Regions from separate parts of the Homo sapiens genome. Here region 2 is linked to region 1. The links come from fine-mapping of genetic effects on gene expression. A gene starts in region 1. The other region holds a variant in brackets. All regions are shown on one strand. Distances are between the middles of the regions.

Evidence for each region.
Region 2: its variant is fine-mapped to the expression of EIPR1 in lung (TOPMed, PIP above 0.99).

The regions. Positions count from the first base shown.
Region 1 is chr2:3,371,385-3,380,817 of GRCh38, forward strand. EIPR1 (EARP complex and GARP complex interacting protein 1) reads right to left here and starts at 6,434. Exons shown (of 9, transcript NM_003310.5): 1 at 6,264-6,434. The coding sequence starts at 6,305. TRAPPC12 (trafficking protein particle complex subunit 12) reads left to right here and starts at 8,310. Exons shown (of 12, transcript NM_016030.6): 1 at 8,310-8,492. RefSeq lists enhancers at 5,938-6,217, 6,238-6,417, 6,438-6,487, 6,759-7,275, 7,276-7,792 and silencers at 6,658-6,717, 8,281-8,330.
Region 2 is chr2:3,397,686-3,407,468 of GRCh38, forward strand. TRAPPC12 (trafficking protein particle complex subunit 12) reads left to right here. Exons shown (of 12, transcript NM_016030.6): 3 at 4,092-4,208. Among named protein-coding and RNA genes, the nearest start is that of TRAPPC12, 23 kb to the left of the region's middle. RefSeq lists enhancers at 1,361-2,286, 2,287-3,212, 3,213-4,136. The variant C/G (reference allele first, on the strand shown) is at 6,152.

The DNA of each region.
Region 1 (9,433 bases):
TAACCTTAAATGTAAATGCACTAAATGCTCCAATTAAAAGACACAGACTGGCAAATTGGATAAAGAGTCAAGACCCATCAGTGTGCTGTATTCAGGAAGCCCATCTCACGTGCAGAGACACACATAGGCTCAAAATAAAAGGATGGAGGAAGATCTACCAAGCAAATGGAAAACAAAAAAAGGCAGGGGTTGCAATCCTAGTCTCTGATAAAACACACTTTAAACCAACAAAGATCAAAAGAGACAAAGAAGCCCATTACTTAAGGGTAAAGGGATCAATTCAACAACAAGAGCTAACTATCCTAAATATATATGCACCCAATACAGGAGCACCCAGATTCATAAAGTAAGTCCTGAGTGACCTACAAAGAGACTTAGACTCCCACACAATAATAATGGGAGACTTTAACACCCCACTGTCAACATTAGACAGATCAACGACACAGAAAGTTAAAAAGGATACCCAGGAATTGAACTCAGCTCTGCACCAAGCGGACCTAATAGATATCTACAGAACTCCCCACCCCAAATCAACAGAATATACATTTTTTTCAGCACCACGCCACACCTATTCCAAAATTGACCACATAGTTGGAAGTAAAGCTCTCCTCAGCAAATGTAAAAGAACAGAAATTATAACAAACTATCTCTCAGACAACAGTGCAATCAAACTAGAACTCAGGATTAAGAAACTCATTCAAAACCGCTCAACTACATGGAAACTGAACAACCTGCTCCTGAATGACTACTGGGTACATAATGAAATGAAGGCAGAAATAAAGATGTTCTTTGAAACCAATGAGAACAAAGACACAACATACCAGAATCTCTGGGACACATTCAAAGCAGTGTGTAGAGGGAAATTTATAGCACTAAATGCCCACAAGAGAAAGCAGGAAAGATCCAAAATTGACACCTAACATCACAATTAAAAGAACTAGAAAAGCAAGAGCAAACACATTCAAAAGCTAGCAGAAGGCAAGAAATAACTAAAATCAGAGCAGAACTGAAGGAAATAGAGACACAAAAAACCCTTCAAAAAATTAATGAATCCAGGAGCTGGTTTTTTGAAAGGATCAACAAAATTGATAGACCGCTAGCAAGACTAATAAAGAAAAAAAGAGAAGAATCAAATAGACGCAATAAAAAATGACGAAGGGGATATCACCACCAATCCCACAGAAATACAAACTACCATCAGAGAATACTACCAACACCTCTACGCAAATAAACTAGAAAATCTAGAAGAAATGGATAAATTCCTCAACACATACACTCTCCCAAGACTAAACCAGGAAGAAGTTGAATCTCTGAATAGACCAATAATAGGATCTGAAATTGTGGCAATAATCAATAGCTTACCAACCAAAAAGAGTCCAGGACCAGATGGATTCACAGCCGAATTCTACCAGAGGTATAAGGAGGAACTGGTACCATTCCTTCTGAAACTATTCCAATCAATAGAAAAAGAGGGAATCCTCCCTAACTCATTTTATTAGGCCAGCATCATCCTGATACCAAAGCCGGGCAGAGACACAACCAAAAAAGAGAATTTTAGACCAATATCCTTGATGAACATTGATGCAAAAATCCTCAATAAAATACTGGCAAACTGAATCCAGCAGCACATCAAAAAGCTTATCCACCATGATCAAGCGGGCTTCATCCCTGGGATACAAGGCTGGTTCAATCTACGCAAATCAATAAATGTAATCCAGCATATAAACAGAACCAAAGACAAAAACCATATGATTATCTCAATAGATGCAGAAAAGGCCTTTGACAAAATTCAACAACGCTTCATGCTAAAAACTCTCAATAAATTAGGTATTGATGGGAAGTATCTCAAAATAATAAGAGCTATCTATGACAAACCCACAGCCAATATCATACTGAATGGGCAAAAACTGGAAGCATTCCCTTTGAAAACTGGCACAAGACAGGGATGCCCTCTCTCACCACTCCTATTCAACATAGTGTTGGAAGTTCTGGCCAGGGCAATTAGGCAGAAGGAAATAAAGGCTATTCGATTAGGAAAAGAGGAAGTCAAATTGTCCCTGTTTGCAGACGACATGATTGTATATCTAGAAAACCCCATTGTCTCAGCCCAAAATCTCCTTAAGCTGATAAGCAACTTCAGCAAAGTCTCAGGATACAAAATCAATGTACAAAAATCACAAGCATTCTTATACACCAATAACAGACAAACAGAGAGCCAAATCATAAGTGAACTCCCATTCACAATTGCTTCAAAGAGAATAAAATACCTAGGAATCCAACTTGCAAGGCACATGAAGGACCTCTTCAAGGAGAACTACAAACCACTGCTCAATGAAATAGAAGAGAATACAAACAAATGGAAGAACATTCCATGCTCATGGGTAGGAAGAATCAATATCGTGAAAATGGCCATACTGCCCAAGGTAATTTATAGATTCAATGCCATCCCCATCAAGCTACCAATGACTTTCTTCACAGAATTAGAAAAAACTACTTTAAAGTTCATATGGAACCAAAAAAGAGCCCTCATCGCCAAGTCAATCCTAAGCCAAAAGAACAAAGCTGGAGGCATCACGCTACCTGACTTCAAACTATACTACAAGGCTACAGTAACCAAAACAGCATGTTACTGGTACCAAAACAGAGATACAGATCAATGGAACAGAACAGAGCCCTCAGAAATAATGCCGCATATCTACAACTATCTGATCTTTGACAAACCTGACAAAAACAAGCAATGGGGAAAGGATTCCCTATTTAATAAATGGTGCTGGGAAAACTGGCTAGCCATATGTAGAAAGCTGAAACTGGATCCCTTCCTTACACCTTATACAAAAATTAATTCAAGATGGAATAAAGACTTAAACGTTAGACCTAAAACCATAAGAACCCTAGAAGAAAACCTAGGCATTACCATTCAGGACATAGGCATGGGCAAGGACTTCATGTCTAAAACACCAAAAGCAATGCCAACAAAAGCCAAAATTGACAAATGGGATCTCATTAAACTAAAGAGCTTCTGTACAGCAAAAGAAACTACCAACAGAGTGAACAGGCAACCTACAAAATGGGAGAAAATTTTCACAACCTGCTCATCTGACAAAGGGCTAATATCCAGAATCTACAATGAACTCAAACAAATTTACAAGAAAAAAACAAAAAACCCCATCAAAAAGTGGGCAAAGGATATGAGCAGACACTTCTCAAAAGAAGACATTTATGCAGCCAAAAGACACATGAAAAAATGCTCATCATCACTGGCCATCAGAGAAATGCAAATCAAAACCACAATGAGATACCATCTCACACCAGTTAGAATGGCAATCATTAAAAAGTCAGGAAACAACAGGTGCTGGAGAGGATGTGGAGAAATAGGAACACTTTTACACTGTTGGTGGGACTGTAAACTAGTTCAACCATTGTGGAAGTCAGTGTGGCGATTCCTCAGGGATCTAGAACCAGAAATACCATTTGACCCAGCCATCCCATTACTGGGTATATACCCAAAGGACTATAAATCATGCTGCTATAAAGACACATGCACACGTATGTTTATTGCGGCACTATTCACAATAGCAAAGACTTGGAACCAACCCAAATGTCCAACAATGATAGACTGGATTAAGAAAATGTGGCACATATACACCATGGAATACTATGCAGCCATAAAAAATGATGAGTTCATGTCCTTTGTAGGGACGTGGATGAAATTGGAAATCATCATTCTCAGTAAACTGTCGCAAGGACAAAAAACCAAACACTGCATGTTCTCACTCACAGATGGGAATTGAACAATGAGAACACATGGACACAGGAAGGGGAACATCACACTCTGGGGACTGTTGTGGGGTGGGGGGAGGGGGGAGGGATAGCATTAGGAGATATACCTAATGCTGAATGACGAGTTAATGGGTGCAGCACACCAGCATGGCACATGTATACATATGTAACTAACTGGCACATTGTGCACATGTACCTTAAAACTTAAAATATAATAATAATTTAAAAAAAAAAGAGAGAAAAAAAAGAAAATAACATTTCAGTTAACCTCAAAGATACAATACTGAAGATAAAATCCTCTGGGTTTTTTGAGAGATTTCTTAAGGAGATCAAGAAGTTAAATTAAGTAGCACTGGCAGAGTATGCATCTTCAGGTAGTACAAGATTATAGAACCTTCTATCTACCCATGTGGTCTCTCCCTGTGTATCCCTATGTGTATCTAGTTAAAGAGAAAGCAGTAGAACTTAGCAGGTAAGGGGACTCGAGGTCAGTTTGGGTTGAAAGTCTAAGTAGGTCAGAATCCAAGGTCTATCATTTACTAGTTAAGTGGCCTTGGACAGGTAACTATTCTCTCTGAGGCTGTCTCTTCATCCGTAAAACAGGAACAATAACACCTACCAATAATGATTGCTGTGAGAATTAAATGAAATATTTGTACAGTGCTAAGCAGAGTGTCTGACACATAGTCCAGAGCTAAATCACTGGTAGTTAAGCTATCAGTCTTGTGAATGTGATATAGCCACTGGTCAAATCCTATAGCACAGTTTATTATACAGGACACTTAACTGCTGCCCTGTATAAAATTTATTTGTAAGAATTTTGTCTTAGGCAGGGTGCGGTGGCTCATGACTATAATCCCAGCACTTTGGGAGGCCAAGGAGGGCAGATCACTTGAGCTCAGGAGTGTGAGACCAGCCTGGGCAACATGGCGAAACCCCATTTCTACAAAGGAAAAAAAAGGAATTTTCTCTCATTATAACAATTAGAACAACAATTATTGAACACACTATGCACCAGGCACTGTTCTACGTGATTCAATTAAGTGTATTAACTCATTTAATTTCATAACAGCCATGAGGTGGGGGGGAGGGAGATGCATATTTTATTGGCAAGGAAACCGAGGCCCAAGGTCACATAGTTAATAAGTGCTAGAGGCAGGATTTAAAACTTAGGTGTCTGGGTGGCATATGTTATTCTACTAACACTGCTGCCTCTCTGACTGTAACCTACTTAAAAACAGACATTGGCCAGGTGCGGTGGCTCACGCCTGTAATCCCAACACTTTGGGAGGCTGAGGCAGGCAGATCACAAGGTCAGGAGTTCAAAACCAGCCAGGCCAAGATGGTGAAACCCCGTATCTACTAAAAATACAAAAATTAGTCGGGCGTGGTGGCGGGTGCCTGTAATCCCAGCTACTTGGGAGGTTGAGGCAGGAGAATCACTTAAACCCGGGAGGCGGAGGTTGCAGTGAGCCGAGGTCACGCCACTGCACTCTAGCCTGGGCAACGGAGCAAGACTCCATCTCAAAAAAAAAAAAAAAAAGCAGACATCATTTATATCTTTAACACATACTGCTGCACAAAATTATGTATCAAGTATTTCATATGGCAGTGAACTGTGTTTCTATCTCTCTATCTGTCCCTCAGTGCTTTAGGCATAACACATTCTCAAAAGCTACTTGAATAGATGAAAACCAGGACAGGGCTCTAACAGGCCCTACACAATCCTCATCTTCCTCCCCCGCTCATCTCATCCCCTACCTCATTCCCCCTGACGCATTTACTCTATCCACGGCAGCTTTCTTGCTGTCCTGAACTACCATGTGCATTGCTTATGCTCTGGGGGCTCATTCGGTTCATAGTCATTTGTTGAACACCTACTATGTGACAGTCATGAAAAGGCACTGGAAAATACAAGGTAAAAAACTAGTGTGAAAACAGTTGAATCCGAAGACAGTCTGTGGTTTACTGAATATTAGTGTACCAATGTTAATTTCTAAGCTGTGATAAATGTACGATGGTTATGTAAAGTGTTAACATTAAGGGAAGCTGGGTGGAGGGTAAAGAAGAACTTTCTATGTATTTTTACAACTCTTCTAAATACTTTAAATTGTTTCAAAATCAAACATTTTTATTTTAAACAACATACAGTTCCTACCTTCAGGAACTCAAATTCTAGAGGAAAAGGTGGGCGTGTAAATAAATGAGTCCACCAAAGTGAGTGATAACTTCCAGGTCAGAAGTCATGTTCGGGACAGGATGTGAAGGGGAAGGAGGCAGGCCGGCTGTGGCCAACCCTGTTATCCAGTACAACCGTTTAACCTCCTAAAGCCTCAGTTTACTTCTCTGCAAAATGGGAACTAGGGAACAGACACGGGTCCTTGCAGGGCTGGTGGGAGATCTGCAAACCGAAGTCACCATGGGACCGCGCATGCTATCAACAGCCAGGCCGAGCAGCACCTGCCGCCCTCCCAGTGACCCACCTGGAACTCCAGCCCGTAGATCACTGGTGCATCGTCCTCCATGCTGCGGGGAAGCGACCCGACCCCGGCCACTCACACGCTAAGGACCTCGCTACGGCCGGCGCGTCCCCACCTCGCGGGCGTGTTCCCAGCGCCCATTCATTCCCTCCCCGCAGCAAACGACTCCAAACTGGAAGTCTTTCTGGCCCAGAACAGCTTCCGTAGTGGCCACTTCCTATTTTTCGGATGTGTCATCAATCTGTTCCTCACCAGCGACCAATGGCAGCGGCGCTGGCTTGTGCGCATGGCCACTTGGGCTCACATCCGGGCTCTCAGCGCGGGGACTCCTGGAGGTGAGAACCCGGCCCAGAGGAAATAAGTTGGTGGGCGGAGCGGGCCGCGGAGGCCGGCTGTGGGTGGAGGCCGGCTCCGAGCGCAGGCCGTCGGGAGCAAGCGGCGATTAGCCTTAGCTAGCCATCGCATCTAAGAATCGCTCACGCCGTAGTTGGGCGCCGCCATGTATTGTCATTTGTATGTACTTGGCGTTCCTGAGCGCTGGGCCAGCGCTTCACACGCACTGCCATAAGGAGCTTCATCCAACCCTATGAATAAGCTGTTACACTTCCATTTTACCGATGAGACGCTGCAAAGTTGAGTAACACAGTCGCAGCGCTCATTGGTCCATTGGGTAGCCAGGATGGGCACCTGAGCTGACTCCCTTAGGTTCGGCCCAAGGTGCCCTAAGTCAGGGCCATGCCTAATGCATTTCTGCAGGTGCCCAGCACTGTGTGGCAAAGAAAGCACTACCAAGGATGGGGTTATGAAAGCCGGCACCGCACCACTGGTGGTCCTGGACTGCATATGCCTCCGAATGGGAGTCGGAAGGGAAGGCCCTGGGGTTCCTAGAGGTCTCCAAAGACTAAAGACTTGTGGTGGAGAGACTGCCCCTCTTTCGCATCCTGCTCAAAGTGCCTGCCCTGGCCTTGGGCCAGCAGAAATGGCATCGCAAGGACTCCAAAATACATCATAGCTGAACCACGCCGCTAGCCTGGTTCCACCGGGGCTTCCAGGACCACGCACCTTTCCTCCATTTCTGTGATTAGCTTTCCCCTCTACCCTTTATTGATCTCCGTGACGGAAATGGTTGGGTCTCGTTTTGCTCAGTTGGGCAAGGCGCGTGGTATTGAGTTAAGGCTGGATGAGTATCTGTTGAGTGTATGAAATTTTAGAGATTACATGAGAAATCAAATGAGCAGGCCGGGCGCGGTGGCTCACGCTTGTAACCCCAGCATTTTGGGAGGCTGAGGAGGGTGGATCACAAGGTCAGTTCGAGACCTGCCTGGCCAACACAGTGAAACCCCGTCTCTACTAAAAATACGAAACTTAGCCCAGCGTGGTGGCACGCGCCTGTAATCCCAGCTACTCGGGAGGCTGAGGCAGGAGAATCGCTTGAACCCGGGAGGCGGAGGTTGCAGTGAACCGAGATCGCGCCACTGCACTCCAGCCTGGGCGACAGAGCCAGAGTCGGTCAAAAAAAAAGAAAAGAAAAGAAAGAAATCAAGTAAGCAAAAACAAGAAAGAAAGAAATCAAGTAAGCAATGGCCCAGACATGAGAATCATCCTATTCAACCACTCTGTTTGCCGATATTAACTTGCGGAGCTAAGAGGGCCTTCATACTTCGGGATTAAACCCACCCATCTATCACTGATATCTTTATCATTAATTTTATTATACAAGTACTGCAGGTGCATGGTAAGAAACTTACAAAATACAGATAAACACAAAGACAAATCCATAGAAACACTGATTTCTAGGATATGCTGGTCAATAAAAATAGCCTAAGCGACTCCCTTTCACCCGCCCCATCTGCCACAGGCTTGCCTATTGCCTCTGAGTGACAGAATCAGGCTAGGTGGAGTGGAGTCTCCGTTCCCATTTCCAAGTACAGGGTCCGCTCCCCTCAACTACCGGCTCCTGGTTGCCTGTGCGCGTTCACACCTAGGGCTCCAGGCCCCGCCCACAGCAGACGAACCGGAAACGAACCCCATTTCCGGCCTGGGGGCAGGGCCTCGGGTTCCTGCATCGGGCCTGAGCAGAACTAGGCGCGCCGCGGCCCGGCACGCGCAGGCGTACAGAGCTCCCCGGGGGTGCCAGTTCCTCTCCGATTCCCGGCTTCTGTCACCTTCCTCACGGACCTTGGTCACGGCCGCAGGTGACCCCTTAGCCCAGCTCCAGTGGGCGGGTGGCAGGTGAGGATCAGGGCCTCGGCAGTCCAGAGGGGATGGGACCGTGTAGCGCCACCTCGGGGAGGGAGCACACTGGCTTTGGCCTCAGCCCGGAGGGACCTTCTCTGGGACCGATGCTAGAGTGGGCGTGGGGTCCGGGCGCGGGGTCGCCTGCCACCCAAGGGCGTGTGTGCTCCGCGGGCCTTGTGCCAGGCTCCACGTCGCCGCGGCCCTTGCTCTCCACGTCTGCAGAGGGCTGGAAGCGTCTCTGCAGCCCGCGGAGTTTGCGGGAAGGGGAAGCTGCTGCGAAGCGTGTGGGAAACTACCCGCTGGCGCGCGCCCAGGCGTCCCCGAGACCCCCAGTTCCAGGCTTGGTGCCAGCCAGGCCCCCAGCAAGCCCCTTAACTTCCCTTAGACTTAATTCACCCTCCCGCGGAAAGAGGTTACTAATGACCTGCCCTGCCAAACTCAGCATTGTGAGGCTGCAATGCAGTGTAAAAGCATTTGAGTCACTGTGTAAACGTCCGCTGTTGCTACACATACTAATTGTAGAGTATATTTACTGTGAAGACCGAAAAAGCGTTTATTCAACAGAAAGCGTTAGGGTCAAAGATGTGTTTTAACGTGTCATTTTTTCACTCTTCACTACGAAACAGTGTAGCCCCAAGGAAAAATTTTCTTGGACCTACGGTTTGTACTTTTTAATGGCTACTTGAAGATATGGTGTCTTTGGATTCAGTCACTGTTCGCAAATTCAGAAGATAGTGGCGGATAATGAGCCAGTCCCGTCTTGGGATTGGGGTGGGAGAGGGACAGGGGAAAAGCAAATGAAATATTACACAGTGTTACTCATTCAGTTCTTACATTTTGTGATATCTGATGGGATCTTCTTCACAGTTACTAAACTGGGTGTTGCCACTCTGCTTTATCATTAAAATGATAATTACTATGCTTGTGTCTGTGCA
Region 2 (9,783 bases), 26 kb after region 1:
GAATAAACCACAAAGGATTATGTAGGTGGAACTTATTATATAGAGATAATGTATATTCTTTCTGACACATACACTCTCACACTTTCTCTGTCTCCCATTGTTGTTAATAATTTAGCAAAATAAGAATGTTGGGAAAGCATATTTGAGTACAGTCTCAAGCTCATCAGCCCACCCGCCTTAACCTCCTTGATGTCCCAAACCCTGCTTGGGATTCTCCTCCTGCAATGTGGTCCAAAAAGTGCCATTGGGTTCAAGAGTTCAACTCATGTTTTCCTTCTGTTGGGTCACAGTCCTTTGCTGTGTCTGAAGACAGTTGTTAGATTTCTTCTGAGCAATGTTGCAGTTGTTCACATCAAGACAGTCCAGTCCCAGTTACCCTGAAATGGACAGAAGCAAATTACTGCTGCTTTTTATTCATTCATCAGTTGGTGGACATTTGGGCTGTTTCTACCTTTTGGCTGTTGTGAGTAATGCTACTGTGAACATTCACACACAGGCGTTTGTGTCTATGTGTTCTCAGTGATCTGGGATGTATAGCTAGGTGTGGACTTGCTGGATTCTGTGGTAACTCTGTTCAACATTTTGAGGCCCCGCCAGACAGTTTTCTAAAATGGCTATTCCATGTTGACTCCCCACCAATGATGTGGTGTGTGAGGGTTCCAGTTGCTCCACATCCTTGAGTTTGGGTTTGGGTTTTAATTGTTGTGGTTTTTTTGTTCAGGTGGTCTCATTTTTCCCTGGAGTAAGCAAACACTGGATCAGAGGATAGACCCTGCCAGGATAAACAGGCACCTTTCTGCATTGGCGATGTGGCAGAAAGCTCAGCGTGTTCTGTGCCAGGTGCAGGGGCTGCTGCCTTTCAGCAGCGCTACCCCGTGAGCATTTGTGTCTTTGGGCTTCCCAGACAGTAAGGCCCATACGCTTTCAGTCCACTGCTCTGGCTTCTGTTTTGTCTTTCACCATCAAAATCAAGAAGGGACTACTGAGACTATTCCCCCATTGCAGGAAAGGCAGCCAGGCCCTAACCGCCTGTCAGCCGTGAGAACAGCCACTTGCTCCTCCATAAATGCACCTGACCAGGAGAATGGGGTGGCGACATCACGATGAGTCCCAGATTGTGATATATTCATGTGTTTCCTTCGTGTTCCCTGAACCTTGCCCTGGATAAAGTAGACCCTCACTGAATGGCTTGCTGGTCTGAAGGAATCATTGGTTCTAGCTGGATTCCATCCCAGGTGTAGTAGCACAGCTCTCTAGAAAGCCCTGGGGGAAGTTCCCTCCCCCTCCCACCTCCCCTGCACAGTAACGGCTAGAGGAGATGCAGTACAAGCGTCTCCACCTCCCTGCGCTGTCACCACCTTCAGTTAGCCACACAGCAAGGGCGAGGTTTGTCCTAAGACGCTTGTCACATCCTTGGCCCTCTGTTGGTGGGATATTTGATAGTCATGCATATGCTAGTATCTCAGGAACTTGCTGTGGTAGCTAAAATATTAACTAACAGAGAATTTTAAGGACAAGAGATTTTCACAGCATGGTCTCATTGATAATGTTGTGGGGATGGAGGAGTTGAATTGGCCCTCCGTCCCTGGCATTACAATTTGATTTTGCTCTTTACCCAGCTCGCTGCCCCCCTGGCTGAGATGCTCTTTGTCTGAGACGAGTTGCATTTTTGCAGAGCTTTATGGGGCCCTGTGTCTGAACTCTTTTATTTTGCCTTTTAATTATTGCTGCTAGATCAGTTAGCTGATTTTGTGGATCTGGTATTTGAAGTACTTCACCTTATGCTCTGAAAGCAGAAATTATACAACTGCTGCCCCTAGGTCTTTTCCTCAATGTGAGAAAACGTGAGGCTGGCCTCTGCGAGCACCAGGTTTAGCACCCAGGGAAGAGACAGACCTATGACCTGGAGCCACCCAGCCCCTTCTGCCGCAGGCTGTTGATCTCTCCTGGTAGAAGGGAGGCAGCAGAGCAGAGAAGCAATGTCAGCAGCTTTTCTGATTCTCTTGCTCTCATGGTCTAGATTCTGTTCTTCTTTTAAGTGTCACTATTTTGAAAGATAGCAAAAGATTGAAATAACCTTGCTTCTTAGGAGAAACAACTTCTATGCTTTTCTTTCCCCCGCTCCCCCCGCCACCGCCCCGCCGCCAAAAAAAAAAGGGTAGGAGAACAATAGGAAGAGATCTGAGCCAGCGGTGAAGTCCAGGCAGGGGGCACGCAGGCTTCTCTGCACCCTCAGTCACTGCGTGCTCCCAGTGGCCCGCCTGCAGCATGAGCATCAGCTTCTCTGTGGCTGGGAGGCAGCTTTGTGCTGAGATGGAGAGATCTTGGCTTTCTCCACCCCCCATCTTGGGGTTGTCCTAGTTTGAGTCTTTCTTCTGCTCACCCGAGAGACTGCAGGGACTTTGTGCTGTGTCCCTGTCAGCAGCTGCTGCGGGCCAGACGCCCAGAGCACGTGTCAGGGAAGATCCAGCCAGCTCCGGCTGCTTGCTGTCTCCAGGCATTTCAGGGACCTCAGAGCCACTGCTTCCTCCTCCCAGGATGCTCACTGTCTCTGGCATTTCAGGGACCTCAGAGCCACTGCTTCCTCCTCCCAGGATGCTCACTGTCTCTGGCGTTTCAGGGACCTCAGAGCCACTGCTTCCTCCTCCCAGGATACTCACTGTCTCTGGCGTTTCAGGGACCTCAGAGCCACTGCTTCCTCCTCCCAGGATACTCACTGTCTCTGGCGTTTCAGGGACCTCAGCGCTGCTTCCCTTTCCCCCTGGGCTGCTCTATCCCCCCAGCTGCCCCTGCCTCAGGTGTTTCAGGGACCTCAGTGCTGCTGCCCCTTCCCAGGTGCCTTTCCTCAGTCAGCAGCACCCCCAGAAAGGAGAGAGATGGTCCAGGGCTGTGTCCTGGTCCCAGCTGTGTGTGAGAGGCGTCTCCTGCCGCCCGTGGAGAGCATCGTGTCCTGTGAGCAGCCTTTACTTACCCTGGACTCTCCCTCGGCCTGCGGTGCAGCCACCGAAACAGCACTGAGGCCTGTGGACTGTGACAGTTTTCTCTGCACTGTTGGGATGACTAGTTTGTCCCCATACAACAGACTTGGTAACTTCAGGCCCTTCCCTGGGGCCCCTGAACTGTGCCGACTCCCGAGGGTCATGAAGGCTGGCTCGCCCAGCATCTGGGCTTGACACTAGCTGTGAGATTGCTCCCTGCTCAGGGCAGGTCATTGGCACATCTCTTCTGTCCCCAGGCCACACAAAAGCACCTGTTCTCCCTCCCCTTGCCCTTCTGTGTCTTCCCTTTAAAGCAAGTGGCATGCTTCAGATTCCACGTCCAGTGTTCTTCAGCACCGTCTAAAGATCGTTCTAATCAGAGGAGTCAGGTCAGGAGTAGAAACGGTCCCGTGCAGAGGCAACTGGATTCTTCCCTGGCTTGCAGCATGAAGTGCGCCCAGCAGCTCCTGGAGCAAGGCCTGGCTCAGCGAGGCTACCGAGGACCTGCTGTGAAAGGGGGTCTCAGTTTTCCTTTGGCTTGGCTGGTGACCTCAGCACTGAAGAGAGGGCCATTGGTAATTTAACTTCTTTAGCCCTAGCCCTCCAGGCTTTCCTGGAGGTCCAGGCAAGCATGGAGGCATTGATGAGATTTGGGAAGACTATTCAGGCCTGCCTGCACCAGCGCGAGGCTGGCCACTGTGGGTGCAGCCCCTGGTCCCCAGCAGTGTCACCTTCATGCTCCTGGGCCTCCCTAGGCCCCTCACCTGAGGCCTCTCTGCTGGCTTGGCTTTGCCTCTCACTACAAGCCTGGTAGTAGGCGGTAGGACTTACCGTTTCCTCTTCAGAATAAAGAACATGCTTTCTGATCAGTGGTGAATAAAGATATAATTTTTAAAATAAAAAGAATAAAGAGCAATTCTAAAATTATGCATTTTATTAACGATTGTGCTAATTTAGCTTCTGGTTAATTGAAGTTTTACGATACTATAACCGTTACTTTTACCTCCACAAGCCAGTGGAGAAAAAAGAAATTGTGTTTAGTTATGGGTTCTGGTTAGCTGAGTTTAGTTGACATTTTATTGTCTTGACATATTTTTCTTCTATTCTTCCCAGGGAGATGCAGTTAAAGACTTGATGCTTCGCTTTCTGGGTGAAAAAGCTGCAGCAAAGAGACAAGTCCTAAATGCCGACTCAGTGGAACAATCTTTTGTTGGATTGAAACAGCTAATCGTAAGTGACAATGTGTTTGATTTCAGTGTTGTTTTGTGATAAGTCCTGCCTGCCTTCATAATATTTTCTCTAGAAGTCAATTATTTTGAATATTATTCAAAGCTCTTGCACATAAGTAGAATTTTGTTGGAGTAGATGCCAGTCCTGTGCACCAAAAAGCATCATATTAATACATGGATACTTTTAAGCCTAATTAGTTAAAAAGCCATTATTGGAAATGATCAAATTACTCAAAGCAGTGCATACTTTGATTGAGTTTGCTTCATCATATATAATAGAGATAAATGATTTGTGTTCATTTTTTAAATATATTGCATTTTCTGCATTTTGTGTAGAAAGTTTATTATTGAATGGGTGAATTTCTGAACATTTTTAAGCTTTGTCATGAATTCTATAAGTAGGTTTTTAAAATTCATGGCTGGGCGCAGTGGCTCACACCTGTAATCCCAGCACTTTGGGAGGCCAAGGCGGGCAGATCACAAGGTCAGGAGTTCAAGACCAGCCTGGCCAACATGGTGAACCCCATCTCTACTAAAAATACAAAAATTAGCTGGGCATGGTGGTGCGTTCCTGTAATCCCAGATACTCAGGAGGCTGAGGCAGGAGAATCGCTTGAACTGGGACCCGGGAGGTGGAGGTTGCAGTGAGCCGAGATCACACCACTGCCACTCCAGCCTCGGCTACAGAGCGAGACTCCGTCTCAAAAAAATAAAAATAAAAAAACATTAGTACTGGATCACCATTGCTGTACAGGTTGATTTGTTTCCAATGAATTTATAATCTTAAAGACAGCTGTAATTGCGTTGGGTAGCTTTTCTAGATTAAGGAGAAGATATTGGAAGTTTGTCGCGTATGTTTCCTTCAGGAATCCTATGGTAGCCATGGGGTAAGTACTCTGAAATGAGAGCCCCATCTCACACCGAATCTCAGCTCCCCAGTGTTGTCTCCTTAGGGGGCTGTGGAATTGCTCTGCTAGCTCATCCACACGGTTGCCTAGAGTGGACTTAGCAAAGCCATGCTCCCATGCCTGCATGCAGTCAAGTTAGTGGGCACACTTTCTTGAAGGGGTTTGGAGAGTGAGGTCCTTGATTTTGGGAATAAGTCCCACCGGCTGTCTGAAACTCATGTTGAAATGCGCCCTTATCCTGACTGTATTTCAGCGGCACATGGTCCAGACACTCTCCATTTGGGTGAACAATCTGGAGGACATGTATTCACCTTTCAACTTTCAAAAAAGAGAATGGAATTTCCTAATTTACTTATTTTTCTAATAGTTCCCCATCTTGTTTTTCTCAATTGTTACTAATTCTTCTGCACCGGGCTTCAGATTTCACCAATTTTTTTTTTTTTTTTTTTGAGATGGAGTTTCACTCTTGTTGCCCAGGCTGGAGTGCAATGGCGTGATCTCAGCTCACTGCAACCTCCACCTCCCGGGTTCAAGTGATTCTCCTGCCTCAGCTTCCCGAGTAGCTGGGATTACAGGCGTGCACCACCACACCCGGCTAATTTTTTGTATTTTTAGTAGAGACAGGGTTTCACCATGGCCAGGCTGGTCTTGAACTCCTGACCTCAGGTGATCCGCCTGCCTCACCCTCCCAGAGTGCTGGGATTATAGGCGTGAGCCACCGCACCCGACCAGATTTCACCTATTTTAAGCAAACTTTAGTTCCTAAAGATATAATAGTTGAGAAGTTTAGAAATTTCTGGAGGATTAAACTTTGCAGCCCATTGAAATGACAGGTGAAGGTTAGCCTGTGAACTAAAACAGAAAATGAGAATGTTTTAAAGTTTATTTTGGAGTAGCGCGTGGCTCAGTCCCAGCTCAGAGGCAACTGTCTTTTGTGTGAAAACAGTAATATGTAAATCACTTACTTGCAAGAAGACTACAGTGAAGTTCAGAAGAAAATAATCCCAGTTCCTTTTTTGTTACATCACCTCTGCCT[C/G]TGTATTTGAAAGTGAGGTATAGCCTGTCCCCATTCTGCCAGAAATGACTGATGTTTGTGAGGCTGAAATCCTGAGCCAGGAGAGGAGTGATTTCTTGATCTTTAACAGGAGCATTTAACAAAGTAACAAAATTTTTTCCTTAATTGACTAGTTCTCTTGAATTCAGACAAATCCTTATTATGTGTGGTCTTGTGACTTCTGTGACACTTTAGAAGCTTTCCTGGGTTCAGTATGGATTGGGGACTGCCTGCTACGCTGACCGGGCCACCTGGAACCCCTTTGCCTGGGGCCTGGCTCCCGGCTGTGATGACCCAGATCGCGGTTGTGTGAGGGCCTTTCCGAAGCATGGGTGGGGGCTGTACTCTGCTGTGAGGTCGCGCAGGGACATCGTGCCCTGGGTTCCTGGATTTTCTAGTCCCTCTCTTCTGATTTTAAACTTCTCTTTGACTTTCTACTTTCTAGTGTTCTATTGTCAGCAGATCTCTTGCTTCCTAAGAGAGCCTAAAGGAAAAAATATAGAATCCTCCCCATTTTACTCAAAAGTCAGTTTCTTATATTCTTCTCGATCTTGATTTTTAACTTCCTTTGATCCCTGATCTTTTTCCCAAAAAAATCTTTTTTTGGAGTTTTGCCCAAAAAGCCTGTTTTTGAGAAAGTACCGAACATTGGCAAAGCAGCCTTAGTTACTTGGATTTTATCCTGACTTCATTATATGCATGAACTGGGAGGTGACATGTCATCAGTGTCAATAACAAATGCTGTAACTTGGGGGAGACAGAGCCAACCTACAAAAATTAAAAATCTGTAATAAACACCGTGACAGTCAGGAAGCGTGTCTTGTTCACCAGTGCATCTGAGGACCCAGCACGGTCAGGCACAGAATGGGTACACGGCGTCTTCTTGAGTAAATAAAGGGATGAGGGAATGAATAGATAAGAGAACCCCCAGTCGGTAAGCTACTCTTTTGATAAAGAAGTAGCGTCAGAATGTTGGGTTTAAAGAAATAGAGAAGGAGCTCATACAAAAGGATAGAGTGGGGGGCGGTTACGGGGGAGGGGGCGCAAAGAGTGAGGAGATGAAACCACAAGAAGATTAGTCTGGAGAAAGATGGAACATTTCTTCCTCTGCAATGACAGAAAAGGAAAGGAAGGATTTGAAAGGAATGAAAATCGAATCCAGCACATTTTCAAACTGTGATTCTGAGAACCCTCGGGTTCCAGGGAGGGACCTTGGGGTGACTGGGCATGGCCTGCGGAGGTGACTTGGTAGGGCCAGTGTCAGGCAGAGCATTTCAGCAGGGTCTACTTTATGTAGAAGTCTCTCTTGAGATGTCTTTTTTTGGGGGGGTGGGGGGAAAGGAGGATGAATTTTACTATTTAAAAATTTGAAAAACTAACATAGTCCAAAATGCCCGCTTTGTAGATTAGAACACTAAGATCTACAAAGGTGTAGAGGTTGGCCCCAAACAAATGTCCTTGCTCCTGTTACCAGTACCATCCCTACTGCCCCATGTCCCTTACACAGTCCGCACAGCCCAGCAAAAAGCACAGTTGCTGGTGTTGGTTTTGCTCATTGACTACCTCCCACCAAATGACTTAGTATTTCTGAACCGTCGGATCTACACACCGTGGGAATTACGCTTTTCAATACAGCTTCTAGGACTGGATTGTATCCAGGGGTAGGATTTCCCATGAGAAGACCTTATATCTGATGGGATTCAAACAAACAAGTTCTCACTTGTGTTTCTTAGTGTATTCATTGAGCAAACACATATTAAGCCTCTTCTCTTTCCAGCAATAACAATAAAGGTTGCTAAGCTAGTGCTCTTGCTCCGTGAAGTTCTGCCTTCTTAACCATTTATGGGATTTACTCAGATTTAGAAGTGCTATTCTATTATTTTTAATTTACTTATTGCTGACTTGAAGCTCATACACTATTTTTAAAAGAAGTATATATTCCAGATTCACAAATTTATTGTAACTCTTATGATTCTTCATCAGTGTCTTCAGACACAGACACAAATTCAGCTGCACTCCTAACCCATGGCAGTGAAGTTTCTCTTTTCTCTCCTCATGCCCTGAATCCACTTCCCATAGGGAAGCTGCTTGTACTACATCTTGAATACCAGTTCCCACAACCCTGCTTCTGTAACTGGCGGGAATCCCGAGAGCTCCAGCATGAATCCCTCAGGCCTCTTGCCCCAGAGCAAAGTTCCCAGCTGTTCCCTGACTTGCAGAGACTGAAGGACCCTTCCAGACTCAGAGAAGCCAAACCTTCCCCAGAGACGCTTCCCTCTCCTCCTTCCTCTGCACCACGCTCCCCAAGCTGTGGAACTGTCACTCACATGGTCACGCAACATACACACACAGGTCTGTACTCATTAACTCGGAGTAAGCGCAAAAACCCAGGCAGAGACCCTCTCCTAAAATAGAAGCAGGAAATTATCTTAGGTGTAGGTGTTTGCTGTCTGAATCCTCTGGTAGCCTGTGAACCACTGGAAACTATGCTCCCCAAATTGCCTTTCTTCCCCACGTTCTTTACCGTATTTACAGAAGCGTGTCCTCAAAAAGGTAAACAAGCATCCCTTGCTTACCTTCACACATCACACCAAGTTTAAATGTGAGTCAATGTCAGTCGAATGCTTCTTTGAGTTTCTTTTACCAAAGTGATTCTGTAATTATTTCTATGATTAGAAAGCTTTGGAGAGGAGAGAGATGGAGATACTCTTTTTTAAAGGGGAAAAAACAGCTAATTTGTAAGTATCTGTATCCTTTATAATTTGCTAATGCAGTTACGGATCTCCAGGGTGGCCATTTCCCTGGCCCATGCTCTGTTCCCAAGGGTGTGGGCGTGGCCCCTTGGTTTGGCCATGGGGAAGCTGCTGTGATGTATCCTCTTGAGGCAGGAACTGAACTGGCAGCATGACAGGGCTTTATAATAATGGGTTTAAAAATCACACACAAAGCCATGCATGTTAATTATAATTAATTTTTTCTACAGGCTATTTTTTACCCTCTTTGATCGTTCCTGTTATTAATAAATATATACAATGGTTTGATGTGTTTCATACGTTGGAAATACTTGAGACCATCAGAAATTTTATTAACAGGCCTAACAAGGGAGCTTACGTAAGGTGAAAAATGTATTTATGAAAGGATCTTTACCTTGCCCTGGTATTTTAATTCTAGTGTGTCCTAAAATAATTCGTGTTGTCTTTAAGGCAGCCAGGAAAGGGTTTTTGAATTATTTCCCTAAGTTATGTCAGAGTTTCCTAAGATTGTAATTTACAGGGAAATGGATGTCACAGCCTGGGAGAAGGACGTGTTAATCACTTTAATGGTATCATATGTAGAGGTAATAATTCCCTTTGAGTCTTAGATGGAGAAAAGTTATGTACATGCCATTAGTTACTTGAGTGATTTTTATTAGACTATTTTTCTCATCATTTGGAAATTGTGTAATGCCTACGTTCAGTTTTTCAAATAGACCCTGTATCGTACTCCTAGCAAAAAAACGTAAAAGTAGTTTTTATCTAAAATCTTTATCTCATATCAGACTAACTTCATTATTAGAATTTTACATGTCATGTACAGTAATTATGAGATTTTCATAAGATTTCTTTCACAAAGTT